Regions from separate parts of the Homo sapiens genome. Here region 2 is linked to region 1. The links come from fine-mapping of genetic effects on gene expression. Tissue or cell type: whole blood. Region 1 holds a variant in brackets; the other region holds the start of a gene. All regions are shown on one strand. Distances are from middle to middle.

Evidence for each region. PIP is the estimated chance that this variant, and not a neighbour inherited with it, causes the effect.
Region 2: it holds the start of LINC02610, and the variant in region 1 is fine-mapped to the expression of LINC02610 in whole blood (TOPMed, PIP above 0.99).

The regions. Positions count from the first base shown.
Region 1 is chr2:238,318,996-238,324,139 of GRCh38, reverse strand. TRAF3IP1 (TRAF3 interacting protein 1) reads right to left here and starts at 3,622. Exons shown (of 17, transcript NM_015650.4): 1 at 3,355-3,622. The coding sequence starts at 3,477. RefSeq lists silencers at 3,129-3,358, 3,489-3,968. The variant G/A (reference allele first, on the strand shown) is at 2,710.
Region 2 is chr2:238,229,042-238,234,185 of GRCh38, reverse strand. LINC02610 (long intergenic non-protein coding RNA 2610) reads left to right here and starts at 2,509. Exons shown (of 3, transcript NR_026926.1): 1 at 2,509-2,852. It also overlaps the pseudogene TARDBPP3.

The sequences.
Region 1 (5,144 bases):
GTCAGAATCATGCCACAGGACTCCAGCCTGGGCAACGCAGTGAGACTCTGCCTCAAAAAAAAAGAAAGAAAAGAAAAGGAATTTCTCAACCTAGTTTGCTAAGACTAGAAGTTCTGCAAGGGTCTTTCTCCTCACCACGTGTCACTACTCACTTCTTAAGATGGTGGCAGGCTCCACACCTCACTGCTTTGGTTCTCTCCCTAATCATCCCTTCCCTCAGGTAACCTGTACCTCCTAATTAGCCCTAAAACCAGCTTTTAGGGCAATTATTTTTCCTGTTCCTCTCAACCACCACACCCAGCCAGGGTCCTGGGTTGTCTCAGACTGCAGTTTTTTGAAATGTGGTAGGTTACTGTAAAATCAATACAATTTGTAGCAACAAGCATTTTGAATAGCTGGGACCCTTACCAGCAGGCTGCATGGTATGTGGTAAGGACAGGTATGCTCATAGCCACATATCCTAGGTCAGCTAATAAAGCATATTTATTACGGGAAGACATGTTTTAAAAACAAGACAGTCCCACCCTAATGAGAGCCTCCTCTGGAATCAAGCCACAACTCCTTAATTTGCATCAAGTTAGGTATTAATGAATCTAGGAGTTTTCATTCCACACCACACTATGTAAGAGCTATGCTACTGTTTTTCTTGAGATGACAGGTAGAATATTAAGAGCATCCTGCATTTAACATTCCTGGAACATTTTCATTTTGTCCCTGTTGAGGTTTTCCCAGGATGCTGGCAGTTAAAATTGTGAGCAATAGGCTGGGTACAGTAGCTCACACCTGTAATCTCGGCACTTTGGGAGGCCGAGGCAGGCGGATCACCTGAGGTCAGGAGTTCGAGATCAGGCCGGACAACATGGCGAAACCCCATCTCTACTAAAAATAGAAAAATTAGCTGGACATGGTGGCATGTGCCTGCAGTCCCAGCTACTCAGAAGGCTGAAACAGGAGAATTGCTTGAACCTGGGAGGCGTAAGTTGCAGTGAGTGGAGACTGTGTCACTGCACTCCAGCCTGGGCGACAGAGCAAGAATCCCTCTAAAAAAAAAAAAAAAATTGTGAACAATAACTGTAAGTGACAAGAGACATTAACGTCACAGTATCCACACTTAGCTTAATGAAACGGGGTGGTTAGTGTAGCTATAGCTAAAATACTAATATAGCAATGTGTGTATAATATTCAGTACAGTAAAGCATTTTCATAAGAGGCTCTCCACCTATTATCTGAAAATCCTTTCCAATATGTCAGTCATTCTAACAACTTTATCAAGTAGGTCATAATTTATTTATCTTTACACAGGGAGAGAAATCAACTTTGGCATTAGATGAGGAAGTCTATGGGAGAAGAGCAGACCAGTCGTTCCTAATTGGGAACATGCAACTCGTTCCACACACCCTATCTACCTGGCCAAGAAGGCAATTCTTTTTTTTTTTTTTTTTTTTTTTTTTTGAGACAGGGTCTTACTCTGTCACCCAGGCTAGAGTGCAGTGTTACAATCACAGCTCACTGCATCCTCAACCTTCCCGGCTCAAGCAATCTTCCCTACTCAGCCTCCTGAGTAGCTGGGATTACAGGTGCACCACCACACTCAGCTAATTTTTGTATTTTCAGTAGAGATGGAGTTTTAACCATGTTGGCCAGGCTGGTCTTGAACATCTGGGCTCAAGTGATCTGCCCGCCTTGGCCTCCCAGAGTGCTGGGATTACAGGCGTGAGCCACAGCACCCAGCCCATGTTCCTCCTCCTCTCCCATTAGGATTCCTCTGACCAACTATGCGGTAGTGACTGGACAGCCACCGTGAGCTGAGCGCCATCACTGCCCCACAAGGATAAGGCACACTCCCTGCACCTCCCTCCTGGGGCTCTGCATTTCAGTGGGACAGACAGGCCTGGGAGAATAAAGGTTTTGGCAGCCACAGCTAGAGTGGGCTGGGCTCACACTGGCTCTTGTTCCCTCTGGGTCAGAGGACGGGTACCCGCCTACTTCACGGGACGGTGGTGATGCGGCACATTGTCCCCCTCCCACCGGGCTATCCACACAGCAGGTCCTCTCCCCACACACTGTCCAGGACAGGCTGTAAGTGCTGCACCAGCTGGGAGGACATGACCAGGGCTGGCGAGGCCCTGGGATGTGGGTGGATTCGAGAGCATTTTTAGGCACTGTTTTAACACAGAGGCACACGCTCCAGGAGACCACACGTTATAAGCTAAGGTAGGAGGGCAGAACCAGTAAAGCAAAGTCTGTGCAAGAATAAGGCACCCAACCTGTTGAAAAGAGTGAGAAACAGAGCTTGAGGACCATCACCAGGTGAGGTCATGAGGCCCTGGAAGTCTGCAAGTCCAACCTGAATCCTAAATCCCAAAACACACCTCTGAGTTCCCACGTGCCCTTGGGTCCACCATGGAAATGGGTGCTGCGCCCGCTGCAGTGACGCTCCTGAGAGTTACCAGGGAGTTACCACGAGCCTTGACAGGTCCCACTCAACAGGGGATGTTTGTTGTGCAATTTCTATGTACCTTACCCAGTGCAGATCACCAGAGCCATGCTAATAAGCAAGCCAGGGTCTCCGTCACGGAGGAGCACACCATCCGCAAGTGGAAAAAGCTACAGAGACCACCAATCTCAACGTAGGGCAGGCTGTGCAGCTCTGTTACAGTCTTTCCTGCCAAGTCCCCCTACAGCCGCCTCCACTAAATCCACCCGCAG[G/A]CATTTATTAAGCACCCAAAATGTGGTATGGAGGGAAACTTTGGGGCAGAAGGGTTGTATAAAAAATATTATTTCCATTCTCCCAGGATTTAGGGAGTGCCTTCCACGTGCTACATACTTCAGGGCAAGCGAGAGGGGTTCTGCAAGGTTAGACGAGGCAGGAGTCACAGAAGCAGCTCTGCCAGCAATAATGGAAGATGCACTCTAAGGAAATACAAGGGCAGGCAGGGAAGAAGTAAGAATGCTCCTGAGGGCCCGGAGCCTCCTTGTAAGCGGCGGCCCGGAGCCGGGGGAGGGGCAGGACCTCCTCACGGAGGGCGCCGCGGAATTGGGCCTACAGGCCGGGCTCCCAGGCAGGGGCCGCACAGAACTCTCGCCCCGACCCCGGAACTGACCCCGGCCCCCGACCCGCACCCTGTGCCCGGCCCACACCCGGCCCTGAACAGGTCCCCGACCTGCACCCCGAGCCCGGCCCACACCCGGTTCACACCCGGCCCGGGCCCCGACTCCGGCCCAGCCCCGGCCCCCGACCCGCACCTGAGCCCGAGCCCGGCTCGCACCCGGCGCCACCCGGCCCGGGCCCTGACCTCGGCGCCCACCGGAATCCCGACCCGCACCTGGCCGGGCCCGGTCCCCGGCGCCCACCTCCGTGATGATGTCGTGCAGGTAGCGGAACGGGGGCTTGCTCAGCAGCTTCTCGGTCAGCGGCGGCCTCCGAATCACTTTCCCCAGCGCCTCCTGCGTCCGCCTCACCACCGCCGCGTTCATGACGGCGTCCGCCGCCCGCTGGCCGCCCGCGCCCCTCAGCCGGCCTGGCCGAGCCTAAGCCCGGGTCCCTGGCCGCCGCCGGCCCCGCCGCCGCCGCCGCCCGGTCCTGCCAGGACGCGCCGCTCCGGTTTCCATCCCACAGTGCACCGGAGCCCACCACAGCGCCTGCGCGGCCGCCGCAGGGCGTTCGGTCACTAGGGCTGCGCGGCCTTAGCAACGGACGCGCCGCGGCGCCCCGCCCCCTGCCCGCCTTCCAGCGCCCGCGCAGGCAGGAGTGGGGGTTCCGCGGGAGGGATTTGCGGGAGTGCGGCTGTGCCAGAGCAGGCGGGGCGCGGCGGGGCGGGGAAAGGGGATCTGGGATCGGGCGCCTGGCCCCTCCTCTGCCGAGCGACGGCCTCGGGAAGCCGGTGTTCGCTCGCGTTAGAGGCGACTGCCTGAGGACTGATTAAGAACAAGGTAACCTCCAAGATCTGTGCCGCCTGTTTCCCAAATCTCAAGGGCTTTCGAAGGCACTGGTTCATCGGAGGGGACGGCACTAAGTTATCCCAAAACACACGGAATAGAAAATACGCTGTCCTGGCTGGTAATTAATAAGGCTTCTTGGGCAAGTCACCTGTTTTCTCTGAGACTTCACTTCTGCTCCCACAAAGCAGGACTAGTGTGCCCGCTGCCTAACCCACCTCCCAAGAAGGTAAATGGTGACTAAATGCTGTGTCGGTGCTCTGAAACCGGGACAAAGCCATGCCTAGTTGTCCTACTAGGTGTCCGTGATTCTTTACCACCTGTCCTCTGTCCATCATGCACAGGCCTACCGCAGAAATCCTTCCGGCGATTTGAGAGCTCTGGGGTCTGTAGTTCTTCTAATGAGAACACCATTATAACCTTTTTTTTTTTTTGAGACGAAGTCTGACTCTGTCGCCCAGGCTGGAGTGCAGTGGCACGATCTTGGCTCACTGCAACCTCCACCTCCCAGGTTCAAGTGATTCTCCTGCCTCAGCCTCATGAGTAGCTGCGACTTCAGGCTCCCGACACCACACCAGCCTCGCTTTTGCATTATTAGTAGAGACGGGGTTTCACCATGTTGGCCAGGCAGGTCTGGAACTCCTGACTTCAGGCAATCCGTCCGCATCGGCCTCCCAAAGTGCTGGTATTACAGGTGTGCGCGACCGCCCCCATTATAACTTTTAAATTGACCTTCATTTTTACCATTTTCAGGCCTCCTCATTTTTTGTGGAGATCTAAATCGCCATCTGGTGTCATACCCCTCCTGTCTGAAGAACTTCCTTTAATATTTCTTCTAGCACAGTTCAGTTGGTAATGGAAAAGTTATACAGACAACCAATTTCAATGCCAGTCAGGCTGTATGGTTTATCAACAAATACTAAATTGCATTTTTATAGTTTTCCTTCCATGTCCCCCTATAACCACCTCCAGTAAATTCAGCCACAAATATTTATTAAGCATAGAAGTATAGAATTCTAGAGTTGGGAGGTCAGGAGTTCGAGACCAGCCTGACCAACATGGTGAAACCCCGTCTCTACTTAAAATACAAAATATTAGCTGGGTGCAGAGGCGGGCGCCTGTAATCCCAGCTACCAGGAAGGCTGAGGCAAGAGAATCACCTGAACCCAGGAGACAGAGCTTGCAGTGAGCCGAGGTCATGCCAC
Region 2 (5,144 bases), 90 kb after region 1:
TGCTTCCAAGTCCTCCTGCAAAGCACACCACAAGCTCAGTCCATGTTCTCAGCCCATCAGCTTCAGTTCACATTGCCACACTTACATATCAGTAACAGAAGAGAACACACACCATACAGCATTCACAGCAGTTGACAAAGGGGTAGGGGGAGTACAAGTATCATTTCACTTAACACATTCAAATAAAGTGGGTTATCTAAGAACAAAAACTCAAAGTCTTCCAACAGATGTGGATGTCCTTTGAATGCAAAAAACATTCGTACATTATTTGCTATCATTGCTGTCTGCACACTGTCACCAAAGCCGCAGGATTGAGAAACACATCTCGCCAAGTTAAAAAATATCCGTTATGCACCACCAAGTCTCTGCACGTGCTCTCTCCTTTTCTCACTCATACTAGCCTTTCATGCCTCAGCACCACCGTCAATCCCACACAAGGTTTCAAAAGTTCAAACAGCCTTCTAGTTCCATATCACAGCCTTGCGTTCACAGCGTTGATACGACTCTATGAAATAAAGAGTAGCAGATAAAAATGGGACACCCACCGTCAAAGACGCGGCCTGTGATGCGTGATGACGAATTCTTGAATGAGAAGGCATGTAGACAGAAGTGTTCCTATGGCAGAATATTTACAGCACTACTTTCAACCAAGTGCTTCTTCCATAAACATTTGAAATGAGATGAACTGCAGAGATTAAATGAAGGCTTCATATTGTACTTTTGTGTTTGAGGGGAGACAAGTGTTAAAAAACAAAACAAAAGAACCAAACTGTGACACCATGATCTTCTAAAAGGAGATTTTCTTAAGGAAAAAAATCCATATGGTGGGGTTCAAATTAAAACAAGGAATAAAGAATGTAGTTCTAATTCATGGCTTCCATTTTGAACATGCAAAGAACTCACTTGACAAGTCCAGGGATAAAATATTACAGGAGAAACCTTCTGATATCAATTGTAGTGTGTTGGTTTACCAATCAGGCAAACAGCAGTTCACTTTCAACCACTCAATATTTCAACCTTTCATGTAACAAAACTTATAAAATTCCTTTAGCTGTTCCTTTTTCTAAAGAAAAATGTCAAAAATACTACTGAATATACTCCACACTGAAGAAACCAATTTTGAAAATTCTTAGTACATATGTATTTTACAATATACTTACCATGAGTTTAGAAAAATTTGAATTCCAACCATTCTATACCAACCAACCACAACCCCACTGTCTACGTTCCCAGCCAGAAGACTTAGAATCCATGCTTGAGCCAAAGCCGCCATTAAAACCACTGCCCGACCCTGCATTGGATGCTGATCCCCAACCAATTGTTGCACCAAAATTAGAACCACTACAAGAGTTATTTCCAGAACCGAAGGCCTGGTTTGGCTCCCTCTGCATGTTGCCTTGGCTTTGGTTATCATCCGATGGGCCTGGCTGCTTCGCTGGCTGGCTAACACACCCATCGTACACCAACTGCTCTGCAGCACTGCCTGGGGGGCAGCCATCATGGCTGGATTAATGCTGAACGCACCAAAGTTTATCCCACCACCCATATTACTACCTTGATTGTTTCCCAAACCAGCTCCACCCCCTCTACTCTTACCAAATCCACCCTGATTCCCAAAGCCACCTGGATTACCACCAAATCTTCCACTTCTTGCTGTCTATTGCTATTGCGCTTGGGTTCGGCATTGGATATGTGAACGCTGATTCCTTTCATCGAGTCCTCTCCACAAAGAGACCGCGCAATCTGATCATCTGCAAATGGAACAAAGGCAAAGGCCCTGAACGGCTTGGGGACGAAGACATCCATCACATCCCCATACTGAGAGAAGAACTCCCACAGCTCATCCTCAGTCATGTCCTCCGTACGGCGCCCCACAAACACTTTTCTGCTTCTCAAAGGCTCATCTTGGCTTTGCCGCACCATAAGAACGTCTCCAAAGGTACTACAGTACTCTTTCAGGTCCTGTTCAGTTGTTTTCCATGGGAGACCCAACACTATTAAATCGGACTGGTCTTTTCACTTTCACTGCTGATGAAGCTTCTGTCTCACCCATTTTTCTTTTGTTATCTTTCGGATAGTTGACAACATACACCGGATTTCTCCAGCCAGCATCGGGGGCATGCAGAATTCCTTCTACCAGCCGGACACCTCTCATACATTGAGACACCGGATTCCTGCAGCGAAGCCCACACGCCCCTGGAAACTGGGCTGTAACCGTGGACAGCAGCACCGTCCCATCGTCTTCCGATGGTATTTCAATGGGCTCATCGTTCTCATCTTCGGTTACCCGAATATATTCAGACATCTTTTACTTTTCCACTAGGCCGCTGCTGGGAAGCCCGACAGGGACACCGAGGCAGCGACGGACCCAAGCGCCAGTGTTTTTTTGTTTGTTTGTTTTTTGTTTTTTTAAAGAGGCCACCACAAGTTGAGGCGGGACTACAACTCCCAGAGGCCGCCGCGGCCCGGAGGCCACGCCCCTTGGCGGCGAGCTCTGAGCCCTTTGCCGCATTTGACACTCGACATCCTCGTGCTTCTTAAAGCACTTGCCCAACGGTGAGCAACGGCCTCCAACGGTGCCCGAGGGACTCGCGCTGCCCGTTAAGCAGCTTTGCGGTGGCGGAGGCTGGGCTGCCGTCTCTCCGACATCCCGGGACGGAGGAAGAGATGAAGGCTCTGCAGCCCCCGCCGCCCGATTTACGCTTGAGAAAGCGAAGGCGAGAGAGGTCGTCCAGCCCCTGGGGGCCCAGCCCTAGAGAGCGGGGCGCGGGCTGCGGGGCCCGGCGGCCTGGACGGCGGAGCGTTGAAAGCTCCCCCAGGGATAGGAAGTGCAGCCGAAATCAACGATTGAGGTCAGTGAAGGAGCGGACGCTTGAGGCCTTGGAGGGGAAGCAGGTTTCTCCAGGAGGGAACCCGGGCCTCCGCTTTGCTCAGCGCTCCCCTCGCGAATGTGTTGAGCACCTGTTATGTGCTGGGGGTACAGAGGTGAGACTCACAAGGCCCCTGCATTGTCTTTAAGATCAGCAAGACCCCGCAGAGAACCCAAATCCAACGCGCACTGCCCAGAGGCAGACACTGGCATTCCTTGATAGACGGTAGCCAGGGAAGCCCAGGTCTTACTAGATTATTATCAGTACTTGGATTTGAATGTATCTGAGAGGAGGAGGGTTAAGGTTTAAGCTGTGGCTCAGAAGCCCCTCAGCTCTTCGTGGAATCTCCCAGGCTTTTCACTCTTGCATCCTCATGGAAAAATACTGCCCTCCCTGGGAAACCATGCTTTCTGTGCACACCTGCTCTGTTCCCATGTCGCTGTACTACCTATTGACCTGTCAATGGATGATGACACTTGGGGTACTATCCTCTCTCCTCCAGATCTTGCCCCACCTTAACCTTGAAAGAATATTAAATGCGCCCTTAGACGTCAGGAACCATCCCTCAAACCTTGCCATTCCTCTCTGTTGAACCTGCTCCAAATCTTAAGTGCCAACCTCCATCTTATCCACTTTATCCTGGGGAACTTGTCCTCACACCCCGTTGAGGTTTCTTACTTATTGTCCTACTGTTTTCTTCACACTCCAGTTTCTTAAAAACAGTCTTCATTCTCATTTTCTTCATTTCCTCATCACCTGTTTGTCCCTAACAAAATTTCAGTATGGCTACATTTCCTGCCATTCTACTATAGAAAACTTCTGCCAGAGTCTCCAATGAACTCCTGATTGCCGAGTAGACTCTTCAGTTTTCTCACCCGAACTTTGCGGCATTTGATACTCAACATCCTCATGCTTCTTAAAACATTGTTCTTGCCAGAGCACGGTGGCTCACACCTGTAATCCCGGCACTTTGGGAGGCTGAGTTAGGCAGATCGCTTGAGCCCAGGAGTTCAAGACCAGCCTGGGCAACATAGCAAGACTCCATCTCTACCAAAAATGCAAAAAATTAGCCAGACATGGTGGCCCGCACCTGTAGTCCCAGCCACTCGAGAGGCTGAGGTGGGAGTATCACTGGAGCCCGGGAAGTCAAGGCTGCGGTGAATTGAGATCACGCCAGTGTGCTCTGGCCTGGACAATGGGAGTGAGACCTTATCTCAAAAAATTGTTCTCTGTCTAGTCTTCTTGCTCTTCTTGTTCCACCATTCCTTCTCAGGTTCTGGCAGTGGCTCTTCACAACTGGATATTAAATGTTGTCTTTTTTTTTTTTTTTTTTGAGACAGGTTCTCACTCTGTCTCAGGCTGGAGGCTGGAGTGCAGTGGTACGATCATGGCTCACTGCAACCTCGACCTCCCAGACTCAAGTGATCCTCCCACCTCAGCCTCCTAAGTAGCTGGGACTATAGGCGCACATCACCATGCCTGGCTGATTTTTGTATTTTTTTTGTAGAGAGAGATGTTTGTAGTGTTGCCCAGGCTGGTCCAGCAATCCACCTGCCTCACTCCCAAAGTGCTGGGGTTATAAGCATGAGCCACCGTGCCCGGCGAATATTGTCTTCTTAAATATTGTGCCCCACATTTCTTTGCTAGGCCCTCTTCTCTAGCTTCTAGGCTGTAATCTGTATGATCTCCATGGCTTCACCTGCTGTGCTACCAGCTGCAAAATCTATTTCCAGCCCAGCCCTCTCTGGAGCTCTCATAGAGTTTATCCAAATGCCCCTGGCTGTCGCCTCTCAGGAATCCCACAGGTTCTGCAACAAGTTCAAATGTGAACTCAGCTTTCCAACAAAACCTGCTCCTCCCTTCATGTTCTGGATCCTTCAGAGCAACAAGGGCATCAATCCTTCAGGCTGGAAACCAGACGGTCCATGGAGACACCTCCCTGGAGCCCTGCCTGGGCAACCTTGACCTCCCAGGTTCCAGGGGACACTGGAGCCCTGCAGGTAGCGTCCAGGAACTGGCAATCCTGCCACTTCAACAGGTTGAACGAACAAGAGGATGAGTCTTAGACGTCCCTTTCCCCCTGTCCGGCTCCTGCATTCGTAGTTCAGGTTCTTGGCTGTCACCTGGAGAATGGCAGTGGTCATTAAGAAAACCCCCACCTTGAAGGTTACGCCCTGAGCTTCAGTCTTTTCAAAAGCCCAACACTGCAGATTCTCAAAGAATAGTAGGCCTGGTCCTCACGTGGGCCAACTCAGAACTTACTGACTGCCTCCA